Regions from separate parts of the Homo sapiens genome. Here region 2 is linked to region 1. Evidence: fine-mapped expression QTL. A gene starts in region 1. The other region holds a variant in brackets. All regions are shown on one strand. Distances are from middle to middle.

The links.
Region 2: its variant is fine-mapped to the expression of FRA10AC1 in hippocampus (GTEx, PIP above 0.99). The same link has a PIP of 0.9 or more in prefrontal cortex and tibial nerve.

Annotation. Positions count from the first base shown.
Region 1 is chr10:93,697,789-93,707,564 of GRCh38, reverse strand. It overlaps FRA10AC1 (FRA10A associated CGG repeat 1), which reads left to right and starts at 4,973. Exons shown (of 14, transcript NM_145246.5): 1 at 4,973-5,190; 2 at 7,459-7,535; 3 at 9,169-9,264; 4 at 9,384-9,429. The coding sequence starts at 7,459. RefSeq lists an enhancer at 4,685-4,984.
Region 2 is chr10:93,724,042-93,733,817 of GRCh38, reverse strand. No RefSeq gene overlaps it. Among named protein-coding and RNA genes, the nearest start is that of FRA10AC1, 26 kb to the right of the region's middle. The variant C/T (reference allele first, on the strand shown) is at 4,256.

The sequences.
Region 1 (9,776 bases):
CCATTTTACAGAAGACGATGAAAATTTGAAGAACATTAAGTGATGCTCAACGCCACATAGCTGGTAAATGGCAGAGCCAGGATTTATATATAAATTTGATTTCAGATATCTACCAGTCCAAACCACCACTGTATTATGTACAATACTTCCCTAGCTCTAAACTAATCTCTGCACCCTAGCATTTAAGAATGCCCCAAATCTAGCTCTAATCTCTCTTTCTGATCTTTCTTTCACTAATCCTTTTCAAAAATTCTTCTCCAGCTCAAGTGAGCTACTCAAATTCCTCTAAATAACCTGTGGATATTTCCACCTCTAATCCTTTACCGAAACTCCCTTGCCTTGACTGCCCCCTCCTCTCCTCTCCTCTCCTCTCCTCTCCTCTCCTCTCAAGAGCTACCTTTAAGTCATAGCTTAAGTCCCACTTCCTCTACAAAGCCTTTCCTGCCTCTTACTAATCCCTCTGTCTCAATGTATGTGGTACCTTTCCTCCATAAAAAAAGTTTCTAATTCTTTTAAGTATCACAAACCACCATGGGCCTTATTGAAAGGCAATATGTATGGTGGTCAATAGCGTGAGCTTTGGGCTAGGTGCTGTGGCTCACACCTGTAATCCCAGCACTTTGGAAGGCCGAGGTGGGAGTATAGCTTGAGCTCAGTAGTGTGAGACCAGCCTGAGAAACATAGTGAGACCCTGTATCTACAAAAATCTTTTTTCAAATAGCCAGGTGTGGTGGCAGCAGCCTATGGACCAGCTACTAAGCAGGCTGAGGTGGGAAGATTGCTTGAGCCTGGGAGTTGAGGCTGCAGTGAGCCATGACTGTGCCACTGCACTCTAGCCTGGGCAACAGAGAGATAACACTCTCTCTCTACTTATCTCTCTCTATATATACATATATGTGTGTGTGTATATATATATGTATATATTTAGTATTAGTACTCACATTGCTATAAAGAACTACCTGGGACTGGGTAATTTGTAAAGAAAAGAGGTTTAATTCACTCGCAGTTCTACAGGCTGCACAAGAAGCACGGCTGGGGAGGCTTCAGGAAATTTACAATCGTAGTGGAAGGTGAAGAGGAAGCAGACATGTCTTACATGGCAGGAGTAGGAGAAAGAGAGCAAAGAGGGAGGTGTTACACACTTTTAAACAACCAGATTTCTTGAAAATTCTATCACAAGACAGCACTAGGGAGATGGTGGTAAACCATTAGAAACCACCCCCATGATCCAATCACCTCCCATTAGGCCCCACCTCTAACATTGGGGATTACAATTCAACATAAGATTTGGCTGGGGACACAGAGCCAAACCATATCACACACACACACACATATATATGGTGTGAGCTTTGAAGTCACTTATATTTGTGCCCCATTTGCTTACTCATGACTCTGGAAGTGTTATATAATTTTTTTAAAAAAATCTGTTTTCTTATTGTAAAATAGGGATAATAATAGTACCCACTTCATTTGTTCAATAAATATTCTGAGCAACTATCATGTGTCTGGCACTGTGCTGAGCACTGGGGATTCCACACTGAAAAAGAGAGGTATGCTTCCTGCCATTGTGGAGCTTGCATCTCAGTGAGGGAAACAGGGCTAAATTATTACTACGTATGTAGCTAAGTGCAATGGAAAGTAATGTGCATATTATCAGTAATCCTATCTAGTCTGTGGGAGAGATGCTCATGAAAGGCCTTTCCTTCACCTAAGTTGAGTTTTGAAGGATAAAGAGGAGTTAGGGAGGCAAACAGAAAGGGTTTAAGACCATTCCGGGTAGAGGAAATGGTAAATTTGAAGAGGCATGCATGTTGAAGAAACAAAGAAAGCCCAGCGTGGCTCCATAACATCAAATGTTATGGAGGTTAAGTGAGACAGCAGATGGTTCTGGATATTTATCGGTATATAACAAACAACCTCAAAGTCTTAGTGGCTTGAAACAATTATACTTATTCTGATTATTAGTCTGCAATCTGGGTGAGGCTCAGTGAAGTTACTTCATCTCTGCTCCACTCCATGTCAGCTAAAGAAGTAGAGTGACAAACCCAGGCAGAAGCTCTAACACCTTTTGCAACTTAGCATCAGAAGTGTCTTAGCATTACTTCTGCTATAGTCACTGACATGCCCAGATTCAAAGCTGTGGCCATAGGTATTAGCTTATGTTAGAGAAGTGTCAGCATCATATTATAAAAAGAACATGGAAAATGCAATCTTCTCAAAGACACACAGTATTAGAAGAATGCATATTCAGCCAGGCGCAGTGGCTCACCCCTGTAATCCCAGCACTTTAGGAGGCCAAGGCGGGATCACTTGAGGTCAGGAGTTCGAGACCAGCCTGGCCAACATGGTGAAACCCTGCCTCTACTAAAAATACAAAAATTAGCCAGGCATGGTGGCTCACACCTGTAGTCCCAGCTACTGGGAAGGCTGAAGCAGGAGAATGGCTTGAACCCGGGAGGTGGAGGTTGAGCTGAGATGGCACCACTATACTTCAGCCTGGGTGATGAAGTGAGACCCTGTCTCAAAAAAAAAAAAAAGAAAAGAAAAGAAAGAATGCACATTTGTTGGGCGCGGTGGCTTACGCCTGTAAGTCCAGCACTTTGGGAGACCAAGGTGGGTGGATCACCTGAGGTCAGGAGTTCGAGACCAGCCTGACCAACATGGTGAAACCCCATCTCTAGTAAAAAAATACAAAAATTAGCCGGGCGTAGTGTGCGCCTCTAGTCCCAGCTACTCGGGAGGCTGAGACAGGAGAATTGCTCGAACCCAGGAGGCAGGGGTTGGAGTGAGCTGAGATCACGCCACTACACTCCAGCCTGGGTGACAGAGTGAGACTCGGTCTTGAATAAAAAAGAATGCACAGTCATAGTTTATATCAGAATTATTACTTGGTATTATCACCACCATCATCACCCAACTTCCCTCATCCTGACCACATACTTAATATAGTATTTTGTTGCTTTGAGTTACATAGCATTGGTGCACATTTAAATTTTCATATCCATTGAAATAACATATTTTATAAATTAGGAACAACAGGTTCATGCATGTACTAGACACTTGGTATATGATAGAATATATTGTTGTAGTTATTCCACACATTGTCTGTCTTACTAGTCAACCTTCAAGGATAAGGAGTTGCTGTTACATACCTGTAACCCTGATGTCTAGGGCAGTGTCCTGCCCAGAGTAGGCACTGAATAAATGTTTGTGTTTTTTATTGTTGTTGAGCTATAATTGTTAACTTGAGATTTCCTAAGCAGGTGGGTTTTCTATCCTGTATTATTTCTAGTTCAGATCATGCAATCTATGCCTAATATATATTTTCTATTTACTCTTTTTCAGTAACTGCTGTCTCAAAGTAAAAAATGGAAATCTTTGCCTGAATGGACTGGTAGCAACAGATCTGAAATTCTTAGAAATGTTGGAACCAGAAGCTACTTCCCACACAATCCATGAAGTGGGGGAGAGAGAGACAGAGAGAGAGAGAGAAAAGAGAGAAAGAGAGAGAGAGAAACTGGGTCTTATAGAGAGACAGACACAAGTACTACCCAGTTCTCGACCCTCACCAGGTTTGTGGCTTTAGGTTCTGTGCCTCTCTTCCTTATGTGTAAAATGAGGCTAATAACACAGCAGCACAGGGTTGTTGGAAGAGTAAAATGAAGCAACAAACAAGAAGATGCTAGGGATGGTAGAAAAATGCTAATAAATGTCAAATATGGATAGAAAGGAAATTGGATATGAGGTATAGGTCTGTTTAGTTTTATTAACAATAAAATAATTATATATTTAATATATTTACCAAAAAAGAAACTGCTTGACAAAATAATTCCATATACTATAACGTCAAATTGTAAGGCTTCCTATTGCTTTCACTTTTTTTAGTAAAAGTTTTTATTGAAGTATAATCTGATTGCATTTTGGAATAAGTTAATTTACAATAATTTAATTTATCTTATAGCCTTTTAAGATCACATTCAGTGCAATGGATAAAGCAGAATGTATCTATAATTTATTGTCAGGGTTAGAGACTTGAACTGATAAGGATATCGTTATCTACTGTTTAGGGCAAAAGATGTAAAATGACTGTGCATTAAGTGCCAAGGTTTTCTCTAAAAAGGGCCCACTGTAAACGCCAGAAGCGTGCCAGTTCAATTCAACAAATATTTAATTAGCACTTGTGATTTCCAAGGCACCGTTTTGGGTACTGAGGAGGAAGCAAAAAATGAATAGCTGCTAATGCCAGCGAGAGACAAGACATGAACCAAACAACTAGAGTGGAAAGAGTGGGGCGTCGTGATGTAGAAAACGCAAAGCACAGGAAGAACCTAGTGGCGCTTAAAATAATCCAACTTTTCCTGCCTTTTTTCTTCTTCTTTTTAAGATTCTATTTTGGATCCCTTTTCGCATGTGCCAGGTCGCTTGTCGGCAGAGAATCCTCAACCCTGAGAAATCTCTCCTCCTATTCTTTCTTTCCTCACAAATTCGATGAGCTCTTCTGCCATCAGCACTGCTTTTGGAATGGTATCTATTGTGTGGGTGGCGAAACGATGGAGAGATATTTTTGTTCTAATTATGAGAACTGTTTTACTGGGGGAAGGAGGGAGAGGCTGATCTGAAGCGCTGATGAGCTGCTCTGAGAGGATCCTCCGAGGAGGCGTTACTAAGGTTACTAGAGAGAGGACGGCAGGTGATAGGCACGGTAAAACAAAATATATTTTCAAATGAGAGGCGTGGGCTAAGCAGCAAGCAGTGCCAGCGGTACTAGATGCCGGATTCCCTAGAGGGGAAAGGAAGGAGGCCCAGGGAAAAACTGGGAGCCGCGACTTGGCGAAAGCTGGAAGCCTCTTCGTCCCTTTCCGGGCCGTTTCTCCCGCTGCCCTTGTTTCCCGGAGCTGTTCTGGCTGTAGCACAAGGTCGGCGCACTCGGGGGACGGTGCCATTTAGATGTAACACGTGGCCGTGTCGGACCGGAAGTGGTGCCCAGTCGGGACCCGTAGGGAGAGGCGGGTTGCGGGCGGCGGCGGCGGCGGCGGCGGCGGTGGTGGTTGTGGCGAGGCTGTGCGGCAGGGCGCACGGGACCTGTGCTGCAGCGGCTCTCTCAGGCCGTGGGTCGTCGCTGCAGCTGCCGGGAAAGAAGGAAACGACGACTCCGGGGGCGAACTTGGCACACAGGGAGGAAGGGAAAGGGTGTGTGAGGAGGGCTGTGGGTATATTTGGCATCAGGGAGAAGGACCTCAAAACTTGTTTTTCATATAGTACTAGCTGATCGTCGGGTTTTTTTTTGTTTTGGTTTGGTTTTTTTTTTTTTGGATGACAGATTCTGGAGACACCTGGCATCTCCGTTTTTGAGTTTCTCCCCGCTCTTGTCAGTTGATTCGTAGGCCTGAAGTGAGTGAGAGCTTTTTAGTTCAACCAGTGAGTTAAGATAGGTATGGGTCGGATGGAGCGGCCAGCGAATAAAGAAATGGGAGAGTGGGAGCAAGAATAGGAAGTCGTGTCCTGGGGCGAGGGAAAAGATGATGATGATGATGTAACATTTACTGGGTTTCACTGTACAAGACACCGTTAAAACCCTTTAGATGAGGCAACTCTTTTAATCTCCATTCGTATGAGGTCAGCCATCTTACTAGCCTCTTTTTATAAATGAGGACACTGAGGCTTGGAGAGGTTAAGGAACAGGCCCAAAGAAAGACAAATGGAAAGTGCAGAGCCAAGCAGTGAAATCTAGTAGGCTGATCCTAGAATATATCTCTAAACACACTACAGCTGTCCCCCATCAAGATGTAAAGAACGTGAGGACATAGGACAAAGAGTGAGAGGACAATATGGCTTGAACAGATGTGGTAAGACAGCTGGAGTTGACCTAAAAAAGGGTGTAAAATCCAGGTGTGTAAGGCAATAACAGATGTAAGGGAGGGTAGAGTTGGAACTCGGGCTTTCAAACCTTCATCTCCAACCTTAACTAGCATCTTCCTATCTAGGATTTTAGTGGGGCAGAGAAGAGAGGTATATACCCACACACCTATGTTTGAAAATGGAATTACAGACTTTAAAGGTTATTTAAAGATTTAAACAACTTAAAGATTATTTCATGTAGCTATCTTATTTAATAGATGAAGTCCAGGGAGATGAAATGACTTATTCAAGGTAGCCAGGACTAGAAACATGTCGTTTACCCTAGATCCAATGCAATGAAGTTTAGAGAGTTCTTTCCTCTTTTTCCAGCTGCACTTGCTGTCGTTATATTAGTTTTAACAATTTGATATATCATTTAACCTGGACTGTTCCTTCCAGCCATGTAAATTAGTTATGTATGACATCAAATAGTCCATCCTTCCTTCTTAGTGTGTGTTCCAAATTCAGTGCAAAGCTGGAACTAGGAGCTTCTTCCAATACAATTGAGTGGCAACTGAGGTCTTCCAGCATTTCTAAGAATTTCAGTTCTAAAATGAAGTCCCAGCATTTTGGGATGCTGAGGTGGACGGATTGCTCAAGCCCAGGAGTTTGAGACCGGCGTGGGCAACATGGCGAAACCCCTTATCTACAAAAAAAAAATTTTTTTAAGTTTGCCAGGTGTGATTATGCACTCCTGTAGTCTCAGCTACTTGGAGAGGCTGAGGTGGGAGGATTGATTGAGCCCAGGAGGTTGAGGATGTGAGCCATCAAGGCGCCACAGCACTCCAGCCTGAGCAATAGAGCGAGACTCTCCAAAAATAACTGGATAAATAAAATGAAACAAGAGAAAGCTGACTAATCCAAAGGGCAAGGTGGTTTACCTTAAAGAAACTCAAAAGAAAATGGAAATCTCTACATATATTGAAAAAGATTACAGGAAAATTTTCATCAATTGATGATGTACTGTTCACAAATACTGTAATTCTCCTGGAATATAGTAAATCATATTCCAGAGAGGAAATTTGGAGTAATTGAAATTGTGGGCGCAGGAATCAAGTACAGCAGATTAGCCACTTACTGGATTTGTAAATAGATTTACTTAACTTTGATTACTTCATTCCTAAATGAAGATAACTTTCTAACTTGCAGAATTAGAAGTGTTGTTTGTAAAGTATTTAACACAATGTCTAGAACAAAGTTGGTGATAAACACACAGTGATTATTACTACTCTGAATCAAAAGTGAAGGATTGCTAAACCTTGTAAGCAGTCACTGCAGCTTTTAGGCCTGGTTTTTCAGTGAAAAGATCAAAGAGTAGCCTTCTTTGTTCACCTAATGATAATTAAGGGTGAAAAATGTTGATGCATTTCCTGAAAGGTATGTCTCTTATTTAAAAGCGAATGAAAGTTTTAGATGGCTAGATGGCCTGTGAATAGGAATCTGCCCACAATGATCCTTTAAAACTATTGTGGCTGTTTAAGATAACTTATTTTTGAATTATTGTTTCCTGGACAATTGGCAACATAGATTCTAAATAGCTGACTTTGTACTCCTTTACAGATGCATGGTCATGGAGGCTATGATTCTGATTTTAGTGATGATGAACGCTGTGGAGAATCCAGCAAAAGGAAAAAAAGGTAAGTAATTTTTTTTTATTGATCTATTTTTCACATCCTTTCTAGATTAATATGAAGTATAAATAAACAAGAGTGAAATTTTTGAATTCTGTTTACATGTGAAGACAATTGCTCTAGTGAATGAATTTTTGTTCATTAAGCTAATACATTGATTAAAAATTGGAGAACAATTGTGGGAAAAATAAAAATTAATTCTGCAAAGGGGTTTATTGAAAGGGAAAGAAGAGTTTCAGATTTCTGGAATCTTTTCAGAAATCAGTGAAACCTTTTCATTACATATATTTTTCATTCAACTGTCAAGGACTGTTTATTTGTAAATGTTGTAGCTCAGAAGGGGCTTGAATGGTGGTCTCTTGCCATTACTTGCCTTCAAAGTGAAGTTAATATGGAGGATGAAAGTATAATGCAGCACAGTTCTTACGCATACGTGAATGAGCAGACTAAGGTCACGGGAAGAAACTCAAGGAAGGTTTTTTTGAATTGCAAGAGACAAAAACTCTTAGCACATAAAGCCTGTGCGTTATAAGCAGGATACGTCTTGGTGGAGCTGCTGTGCGTAGGAGCATTGTTCTTAGCTTTCAGTGCATAGAAACTCAGTTTTATACTTTGACTCAGGAGTGGTTGACTGATGTATACTAACCAAACTTACACGGCTGTTGACTGATTTTTTTAAGCAAATGTATAGAAATTGGCTTATTATTTCACACTGAGAGCAATATATTAGGCATACTAACAGGTTCTGAACATTTTTATAGGATACTCAGTCTCTGCAATAAAGGATAGTACTAATTATAATAAATTACATTTTTGATGCTTTACATTTTCTAGATTTTTCATTCAAAAATACTACTTTGTAAGAATAGAATTTGAGCAAATCTAGTTGGATACTCTGCTCCAGGATTATATTCATCACTATAACTAGGGCTGACAGTCTATGGCAGGGTGTCCAGTCTTTTGGCTTTCCTGGGCCACATCGGAAGAAGAATTGTCTTGGGCCACGTACTACAGTGGAGCACACACAATTGTGAATCTGTTGGTTCACATTGTTGGCCTGAAGCAGTGCTGGGCCTGCGTAAAATACACTAATGATAGCCAATGAGGTTTAAAAAAATGTGAAAAAGTGTCTTAATGTTTTAAGAAAGTTTACAAATTTGTGTTGGGCCACATTCAAAGCCATCCTGGGCCACATGAGGCCCATGGGTTGGGCGAGCTGGATCTGTGGTTTGTGTTCTCTATAATCAGCCTTGCTTTTTGTGTATCATTAATTACCAAAAACTTCCTTATCACTATGTTACAGATAGAGAAATGAAGAAACAAAGAGATAAATAATTGAATCTTATTAAGATTAAGGTAGTAATTGACAGAATTAGGATTTGAATCAGGAAGCTAGGTGATATGACACTAGAGTCCATGCTTTTGTTAGTTTCATCTTCCCCGTGTTATAGGTATTAAAATAATGTTAAGGTATTAATTAAGCTATTTAAGGAAATGTAAAATATCTCATTAAAGATCAGTGAGTCTTCTTAAAGTTAAGACTTACATTCTTTAAAGTATATTCCAGTTATGAAAATATAAAGAATTAGAAAATAACCTTTGAAAAAAGTGAACTCTTATTTTCTTCTTAATATATCAGGACAGTTGAAGATGACTTACTGCTCCAAAAACCATTTCAGAAAGAAAAACATGGAAAGGTGGCCCATAAACAAGTTGCAGCAGAATTGCTGGATAGGTATGGTATTTCAGTGTCAATTCTATTTCTTGGTTTAAGTTGCTTCGGATTAGGGGATTTGATTATGTTAATTTGAATATAAACATTTTGAATTTTCTTAAAAAAATTTGTTTTAACAGGGAAGAAGCAAGAAATAGAAGGTTTCATCTCATAGCTATGGATGCTGTATCCTTTTTTTATTTCCAGATTTTTATAACTAGTAGAATATTTTAAAATCTGCTTTTTTGTTTTATAAAATCTTGTGAAGTCAAATAGGCTTTTTTATTTTTAAAGATAAGTATTTAGTGATGTAGGATTTTGCCATTTATACTTTTGGGTACAATTCTCTTTTACTAATATATAGGAAAGATTTAGAGACAAAAATAATAAAACATATTACTAGTACTCTATAAATAGGTTTATAAAGTACATGAATCTGCAAATATATTTTCCAAATTGTTTTTTCAAGCTTTCAACATTTCCTTTTCCTATACTTATCTTTAGTCTCATTTTAATTTATTCTCTTCCTACCT
Region 2 (9,776 bases), 26 kb before region 1:
GAATTCATCAGATAGCTCACATATCACCATCTCATTAGGGTCAGTTACTGGTTTCTTTGCTTTGTCTATTTGGAGAGTTCATGTTTCTGTTTGCTGTTGTTTCTTGTGGACCTACATCTATGTCTTTGCATTGGAAGATCGGTTATGTATTTCTCCTCTGTCTGGCTTGTTTTGGTTTTTATTGGATATGTTTGCTTGAAGTTTCTTTACTGCTAGGTCACAGCCTCCTTTTTGGCTCTAGGTGGTGCCTTAAGCCCAGGTTCACTTTGGCTCCAGTAAACGATTATAGCACTGTCCTTTCCAAATAGGGGAGGTCCCAAAGGGGATGCACTGGTAATTTGGGAAGGCTGTCTAGAGGTTTGTGCCCAGGGGACTTGTAGGATGAATCCCCTACAATGTGGCAATGCAGAAAAGCTGCTCTGTTTTGGTGCCTCCTTTGGCTGAGTGAAACAGCATAGTTTCCAGGGCTGTAAATGGCAGTCTTAACTCCCCTCTTTGTCTCTGCCTGTTCTCGGGAATATTTCTCCCTTCAGGTGCTCATGATGCTTCCCATAGGTTAAGGCAAGGAGAGGTCTCCTGACAGGGAAACCAAAATGTTGGAGAAACTGGTTGTCCACCTCAATTTCACTTTTTTGAGGGGGATATCTTTCTGTTTTGTGCTGGGAAGAATGGAAGGAGGGGTACTGCAGATGTGGAAGTCTGAGTATATTACCATCTGCTTAAAGTTTATTTATTTTTATTTTTTTAACTTCGCTGTGGCCCCAGAAACTCTCTCATGTTGATATTTTGGCTCTGGGATATTTCTGGTTATGATCTCAGAGCTGTATATTTGTTTTTGGTTTTCTGTTGGGGAGAGTGAAGCAAGCTTGTTTCTACATTACCATTTTGGAATCAAAAGCTGAAATACCCTTTAATCTTGTATTGAAAATACAGCTTTTACGTGGATGCAGGACTGCTATAAGAAAGGCATACCCATAGACTCTAATATGATTAGTGAAAAAACAAAGTCCTTACATAACAAAGCATAAGGAAGGTGAAGGAACTAAAGCTGGAGCATTTAATGCCAGCGAAGTATGGTTTGATAATTTTAGAAAGAGATTTGCCTTTAAAAATGTCAATATAAGAGAATAAGCAGCCCTTACCAACCAAGAGGCAGCAGATAAATTCCTGGACACTGTTAAGAAAATCATTGAGGGCTAAGTGCAGTGGCTCACACCTATAATTCCAGCACTTTGGGAGGCCAATGTAGGCAGATCACATGAGGCCAGGAATTCGAGACCAGCCTGCCCAACATGGTGAAACCCCAACTGTACTGAAAATACGCACACACAAAAAAATTAGCCAGGCATGGTGGTGTGTGCCTGTAATCCCAGCTACTTGAGAAGATGAGGCAAAAAAATCACTCGAACCAGGAGGCGGAGGTTGCAGTGAGCCAACTCGTGCCATGGCACTCTAGCCTGGGTGACACAGAAAGACTCTATCTCAAAAAAAAAAAAAAAAATCATTGAGGAGAAAGAATATCTACCTGAACAAGTTTTCAGTGCAGATGAGATTGTGGATATGGCAAAAAAAAAAAAAAAAAAAAAATGGAGGGAAGTTGAAGGTTTTCAAGATGATCCTGGAGAAATTTAAGAGCTAACAAACACCTCACCAAAGACAGCAGAAGACAACTTGATGGAGATGAGTGATTTCAAACCAGTGCCAGGTGATGAAGACGATGTATGGAAAGCAGTTCCAGAAAGCAAATTGACATTAGACAATCTAGCAGAGTGGTTCTGATCATTCATGACTGCTTTTGACTTTTTTTCTAACATGGACCCTACTAAGATATAGACACTGAAACTAAATCAAATGGTGAAAGAAGGATCAGTACCATATAGAAAATTTTTAGAGAAATGAAAAAGCAAAAATCAAATAGAAATTATAATGTATTGCTGTAAAGTTACACTGAGTGTACCTGGTTATTCCACCTTCTCTTCCACCTTCTCCATCTTTTCTGCCTCTGCCACCCATGAGACAGCAAGACCAACCCCTCTTCTTCCTCTTCCTCCTAAGCCTACTCAACATGAAGATGATGAGGGTGAAGATCTTTATGATAATCTACTTCCGTTTAATGAGTAGTAAATATACTTTCTCTTCCTGATGATTTCTTTAATAGCATTTTTTCTCTAGCTCACTTTATTGTAAGAATACAATATATAGAAAATATACAAAATATGTGCTAATCAACTATGTCATTGATAAGTCTTCTGGTCAACAGTAGGCTATTAGTAATTGAGTTTTTGGGAAGACAAAAAGTTATGCACAGATTTTTGACTCTGCAAGGGGTTAGCACCCCAACCCCTGCATTGTTCAAGGCTCAACTGTAAAATAACATGTGATTGTGAAGGGTTTTTATTAACAATTTTAGGCATTGTTGTCATGTAATGGAGATGTTTGAGGGCCACAGGGAGAACCGCTAGAACTTTCCAAATCATGCCAATTAAGTGCCCACTTGGTCACACGGTTATTGATTTTTACCTTAGTGTAAGAGCACTTACTCCCTTGTTACCTTAAATTCCTTTTGCCACCCATCTGGTTCTCCAGTTTCTAATTAAAATTTGGAAGTTTCATGAAAATTCGGCAGGAACAGTTTTTATGAAATGTTCGCTACAGTGGAGCAGATTGTGCTGCTCATCCGAGGCAGCTCTCAAACTAATTTAACTCTCAGCTCTGTAGACTTCATACAGAAAGGCAGGGGAAGCAAAAATGGAGCTGTGATGAATGATGCCAGTTGAAATGCCTCATGCTTCTGACTCATTTCAGAACCATTATCATCTCGATAGAAACATCCCCTCTACCCTCCATATTTTTGCGAGGAAACGTTACTAGAAAAGCAAGGTCCAGAGAGAAGCAATGCATTAATGTTGTGATTAGGCTTAAAGATAAAGCAGCACTGGACATCCAGAGTTGTCTTGGTCACTGGATCAAAGGGAAGAAATAGCATTTGAAGATATGGGAAGGGAAAAGTCTACATACCTAAAGCAGGGCTGACATCATATGATGATAAATAGCTGTTACTTACTAAATATTTACTCTGTGCCTGACACCGTGATTATAAATAAATGTTCTCGTTTGATTCTCAGAATTGCTGAATTAGTCAGGTGAGGCTAACAGCCATAACAAACACCCTCAAATCTCAGTGGCTTGATATTTTAAAGGCTGATTTTTACCCATGGCACAGTATGGGCAGAAGGCGGGGGAGGGATTCAGGTTCCTTCCTGAATAAACTCACCCTCCCCAGGACCTTGAAGTTCTTCACTGGATCTTCTGCATCTCACTGGCAGATGAGGGTAGAGGGAGCAAGTTCACATGGCAGGGACCCCATGGGAGGGTTCTTAAGATCTAGGCCTGGATATAGCATGCATCACTCCTGCCAACATTCCATTGGATAGAATGCAATCACATGGCCTGCCTAGCTGCAAGAAAGGTTGGGAAAAGTGCACAACGACTATGACCAGGAGGAAAAAGAAAGTGTGAGGAACACATAGTCTCTGACCTAAGTACTTATCATTACCCCCATATTACAGATGAAGCTGAGTTTTAGACAGGTAAAGCAACTTGCCCAATAGCACATAGCAAGTAAATGGTAGAATCAGGATAGGTTTTTGGCATGGTAAGTTCTTGGAAGAGCCCAAGAACCTGACTACAAGTTATTGAGCTTTGCAAGTAGAGCAGAAACTGTCACATTTACGGAGCACGTTCTACAAACCTGGGCATTTTTTTTTTGAATTTGTGGACATTACAGTGAAATATGTAGACATTATAGTTTTCAACACTACGATGGAAAGACAATAGTGGGAACAGGGTGAGGACAAGGTAATCTAAAGGTGATACCTCTTTAAGTACTTGATTCCCCGCAAAGGTTCAGGTCTGGTCCCCTGGCTTGCTCCCCAGGTGTTAGATGATAGAACTGAGCTCATCTTTTGCTGCACGCAAGCATGCACCCTTAACCACTGCAGACTCTCTCAAAGATTTATTTAAGATTCCCTTGTTTAACAGCACCTACTTTGATATGGCTACAGGGGAACCTACCACATTTTAGACTTAGGTGCAAAGCATTAGATCTTATCCCACCACTTCCTTGTCTCACAGAGCAGTGGTAGTCCCAGTGTGTCACCTGAGGCCTAAGGTGATGAATTTATTTCCCTACGCTGTGTTCAGGCCATGTAGAACTATCAATATCCACATAAACTCACCATGTTCTCTTGACTCC[C/T]GGCCTTTGTACTCATTGTTCCCTCAGCCCCAATGAGTCTAGAATCACTGGTGTGGACCTAGATGTCGGCAATTTTCTTTAGCTACTCAGGTGGTTCTATTTTATGGCCAGGGTTGAAATCCAATGACAAGATCAGTCTAAGCCAATCGTGGCCAGTCACATTCTCCTTGGCCAGATCAGTGAATGAACATACTCCTTATCAATCAACATAGATAGGATTTTGGGAAGTCAATTCTCATGATATGATCACTATCAGTTCTCTGATTGTCATAGACTATCTTGAGTGTATTTTCAAGGCCCCCTTGTATTAGTCATTTCTCACACTGCTATAAAGAAAAACCTGACACTGGGTAATTTATAAAGAAAAGAGGTTAAATTGGCTCACAGTTCTGAAGGCTATACAAGAAGCATGGCAGCATCTGCTTCAGGGAAGGCCTCATGGAGCTTTTACTCATGGCAGAATGCAAAGTGGGAGCAGGCTTCTAACATGGCAGGAACAGGACCAAGAAAGAGAAGAGAGAGGTGCTACATGCTTTTAAACAACCAGATCTCATGATAACTCACTCACCTGCTATCACAAGAACAGGACCGAGGAGATGCTGCTAACCCATTCATGAGAATTCTGCCACCATGATCCAATCACCTCCCATCAGGCACCACCTCCAACAATGGGGATTACAATATGACATGAGATTTGGTGGGGACACAGATCAAAACCATATCACTCCTATAACACTTTCAGCTTGTTCCTATCATAGAATTCTTCCTTGTTATGCAATAGGCCAGCCTGGGAGATGCTGCCCTAATGATTTGGAAGACTGTCTACTCCTATGTGCCACTGTAGCTCAGTAGGGCACCCTAGGGCCACCGCCACTCTGCAGAACACTGAAGTGGTGACAGTGGGTTCTAGTTCTCTGCACCAAGTCTAAAATGTGGTAGAAAGGGGAACTTTCAAAGCATTTTGTACACGTTGTGAGGAAAGAATGATTGCCGCTTTAAATCTTGACTCCTCTGTACACCACTTGGCCCTCAATATAAAATCTGTAAATAGCCCTGCCTTTCTACGTCTCCCAGCTCCCCACCCTGCATGGATTCTGTGTCCAGACAAGTGAAGGTTTCTTGTGGCTGACCCTGAGTTTCCTGCTACTCTGCCTTTGGTCACACTGTTTGCTTTCCTAGTATGCTCATCTCTTCCCCTTCCCAAACTCCTCAAATGTTACCACCTTAAACTAAAGCTAAGGGTTTCTAGGTTCTCCAGCGGAGAGTGGAGTCAAGAAAAGGGTTCTAGGAAAATTTCAGGGTGTGGATGCTGCATCTGTTGATCCAGCCACCTAGGCACTATAGATGTACCTTAGGCACAAAGTGGCTCTGTGTGTGTAAACTGGAAGGTCGGCACCCCACAGGTGCTGTGACATCAGAAGCTCAGACCTGATTAGTGCAGTTGTTCCAAGGGTGGGCACAGTCCTGGAGCAAGAGAGAAAAAGAGAGAGGGAGGGAGAGACAGAGATAGACACACACACACAGAGAGAGAGAGAGACCATTTATCACCTAAAAATCTCTAAGAATCTTTTAGGACTGTCAATAGTTATCTGTCTTGATACTGTAGTAATATTAAAACAAATAGGGTCTCATTCTAGATAACTGAACTTTATGGTTTTTGCACTGATGTAAAGCAACACAAACAGCAGACAACAGAGCCCTTTGGTGGACTCACCAGACTTTCTGGTTTCTTCTATGAGGTAATATTAACTAATTAACAATGAATAAGTTAATCACTTTGGACTATCTGCTCCTGGTACTTCTATCAGGGTACTTCATGGGAAAAGTACCCTATAGGAGTAGGATAGGTTCCCCTGATCAATAAGATGAACTTCAGTTATTATGGTTTGAGCACCATATTAGTCTGTTTTCACGCTACTGATAAAGACATACCCGAGACTGGGTAATTTATAAAGAAAAAGAGGTTTAATGGACTCATAGTTCCACATGTCTAGGGAGCCCTCACAATCATGGTGGAAGGCAAAAGGCACGTCTTACATGGCAGCAGGCAAGACACAGAATGAGAGCCAAGTGAAAGGGGTTTCCCCTTACAAAACCGTCAGATCTTGTGGCACTTATTCACTACCATGAGAACAGTATGGGGGAAATCGCCCCCATGATTTAATTGTCTCCCACAGGGTCCCTTCCACAACACCTGGAAATTTTGGGAGCTACAATTCAAGATGAGATTTTGGTGGGGACACATCCAAACCACATCAAGCACTAAAACAAATGAGACATTATTTTGCACCAAAGGTAGATGAAGCAGGACATGCCAATCAAATTGATGAAATAAAGCACCTTTAATTTTGTGTCTCATTTACTTCCTCAAATTTCTGATGTACTGAAATGATTCAGTAAGTGCATACTAAGGGCTTGTCATCTGCTGGGCACTCTTGAAAGTGCTGGAGTGTGGCAGGGAACCAGGTAGAATGGTCCCTAACCTCAAGGAGCTTCTGGTCTGTACCTAGAAGCTCTTGCTCTGTTTTCAGAGTCTCTCTTTTGCTGGTATCTGGCTATGATAGAGGGAATTCAAAAGCAGCTTTAAAATGTTTTCTGCAGAAGAACAAAGCAGTAGTTACCAGTATGAGAAGAGGGGAATTGCTACTTTGACACCTACAAATTGAAGGATGGATGCCTTTGTTTCACATCTGTTTTCTCCATGTGAGAAGCAGCCAGCTCCACTGATTGTGTACTGTTGAGGGTGACCACTCCATTTTTCTCTCCTGGAAACATGTAATTTAATGTGAAGCATCTATTGATGAACTGCAAGTATGAAGAATTCTCAGGATAATGTACTTGATTTTCCCCTTGAAATGCAATTCACATTTATTAAGTATCTTTTCTATACAAGGCATGGAGCAAGGTGCTTCATGCACATAATCTCATTTAAGCCTCACAGTTGCCTCTGAGGTAGGTGCATCATTAGCCAGCTTTTATAGACAGGATAAAAGGGAAAAGAGGAAATGGTAGCCCAGGATTCCAAAAAGTGCAAATTCATTTCCAGTGGATGAATACACTTATGATTTTGTTTCTCTTAGATGGGTTATGATAAACATCTTTAATATTAATACCTGCCTTACATTTGCATAATTCTTTCAACTTTTCAAAGCACCTCTTTTATACCTTATTTGATGCTCATGCTAAGCCCTATGCTCCTAACAGTCTCGAACTCCTTGATGGTGTCTCTTTGAGAGCCTAAATCTCTGCAGAGCTGGCTTTTGTTGCATAGCTAAGGTTCAGGACTAAGCTAATAAAAATCTTGCTTCCAGACATCTAATCTGCATCTTCATTTGCAAGGTCTCCTTGGGATGGTGTGACCTGCTGTTTAGTAAGGACATCAGTGCTCTCATACCAGTGATTACTATGGTTACATCTGCCCCAACATTCTCTAAAGCCCTAGATTTTAGAAATATTGGTGTCTTTACTACCTTGTCCTTGTCTGGATCTTCCTGTCATGCCTGAGTTAATGATAGCCAAAGGGAAAGGAATGAAATAAAAAGAAGGAAAAAGACAGCTCTGCGAGCTTGTACACTGAGGTGCATATATTCTCAAAAAAACCAGAAACCAGCCTAAATGAAGAGGGAGGGGATGGTGGCAGATGAAGCATAAAGCAGGTGCTTACTTAATTGCTGCAGCTGGTGCCAAGTGTTTGGCATAATTTTTCTCCTTATTTTCAATTATTGGCACTGTTATTTTACTTTTTAGCTGAAGCATCTGAGAACAGTCTAGGAAGCTTCTCTGCTCCTCTCACTTTTACAGGAAAGCAAGCAGGCATTTTTTTTCCTGAAAATATTGTAAATAAACACAATCCTTGAAATTTTTTCTTGTGCCCCAAAACAACTCATCGACTATAGAAAAGGAAGAGAAATTGGCTGAAATGCAATTTGACGTTTTCATTCTGCCAAAATTACTATGGGTTGAATTTTTAATTTGATTCAGAAGACGATTCAACTCTTCAGCCTCATCTATGTGATTTTGATTTCAGAATAGCATGTCTGAGACCAGAGCTTCCTAAGCTGTTTTCTTTTAAAACACAGATTGTTAAATTCTCCAATTGACATGGCATATTCATTTTGCTATTTGACTTTTTTCTTTTAAGTAGTGAAGGTAAAAGTTGCAAAAATATTGGATGAAAGTCATTTCATGCCCTGTTATTCCACCAATTTTTAAGAAGAGTAAGCGCTGTGCCAAAACCTTATATAGAACAATGTGCAAAAAACAATACAAGGACCCATGAGGAATGCAAAGATAAACAAGATGTAGTCTTTTTCTTTCAGCAGATTTAGTCCTGAAAGGAGAATAAAATGAGTACAAGCAGTAACATAACAGTTTTGAGGGAAGTAACAATGATATGCTAAAAAAAAAACAGCACACGTCTATCAATTACTTTTGATGGCAGATCTAACATAAAGAAAATAAAAATGTTTCATCTTTCTCCCTTTTAAAGTAATTCTGCTTAGAGAATGCTATTTAATCACTGTATTTAAGGTGACATTTGAATTCTGAAGGTTTTATCTCCTATTGACTCTATTCTAGAGAGAGAGAGAGAGAGAGAATACGCATGTGCACAGTTTTGAGCAGAAAAAAATATTTTTATTTTAGAATTTTGTTTCAGATTGCATTTCAGGAAAAGGAAAGGAGAAAAATCGTGCTCCCAGAGGGCATTGGGAAATGTGGGTTACAGTCTTGTTTTCACCTTCAGCCATTTGTGTTTCTGGGTTCCTGAGTGCTTAGGCTGGGTTACTCCAAGTTTCCTTTCAGTCTTCATAGTCTGAGTGTGATGCCTCGCATCTTGTCCTGAATGAATCCAGTGGCTTTCCCATAGGGAGCAAAGGAAACTGAAGGCTTGAGGGAGTATCCAAGGTGCCAGGAGGTGTAGGGAAGAAAGAATGGTACTACTGGATGAGACACTCTTGGGCCTCTCGGTTTTCTTAACTTCCTATTTAAATACTTCATCATTTGTAGAAAGCCTTAAGTTCAGAGCCATTCACAATTTATACTGGGTCTGATTCCTTTTCATTCCCACTGTAGCATTGGCTTTTAAGAATGTAGAAGCATGGCCTAGCCAAAATATATATATATATGATTTACAGGCTAGTTAGAGTTTGTGCTGAGCTGTGTCTGCAAATAAGCCTTTAAGGTAAATGAAAGAAGTTCTAAAGAACCTGAAAAGGAAATGGGAGAGAGTGTGATGTGACAGTGAGGAATGTCATTTTTCTCTGTGGTTCTTTCCTGTCTAATTTCACAGCCAGCAACCTGGTCCAGGCTCTAATTAACCACATGTCCATAGGCTGCTGCTGATGCTCTAACAATATCCAGTCTTCAGACTGTTCCTGTCCAGTTTACACATCATTGTCCTTCCTCAAACACTCCCTTCACCATGGTGCTTCCCTAGGCAGTGATTTATTATGAGTCCTTGTTACCTGGTACAACTCATCTCTTTTGTTTATTTACTTATTTATTTATTATGATTACATAT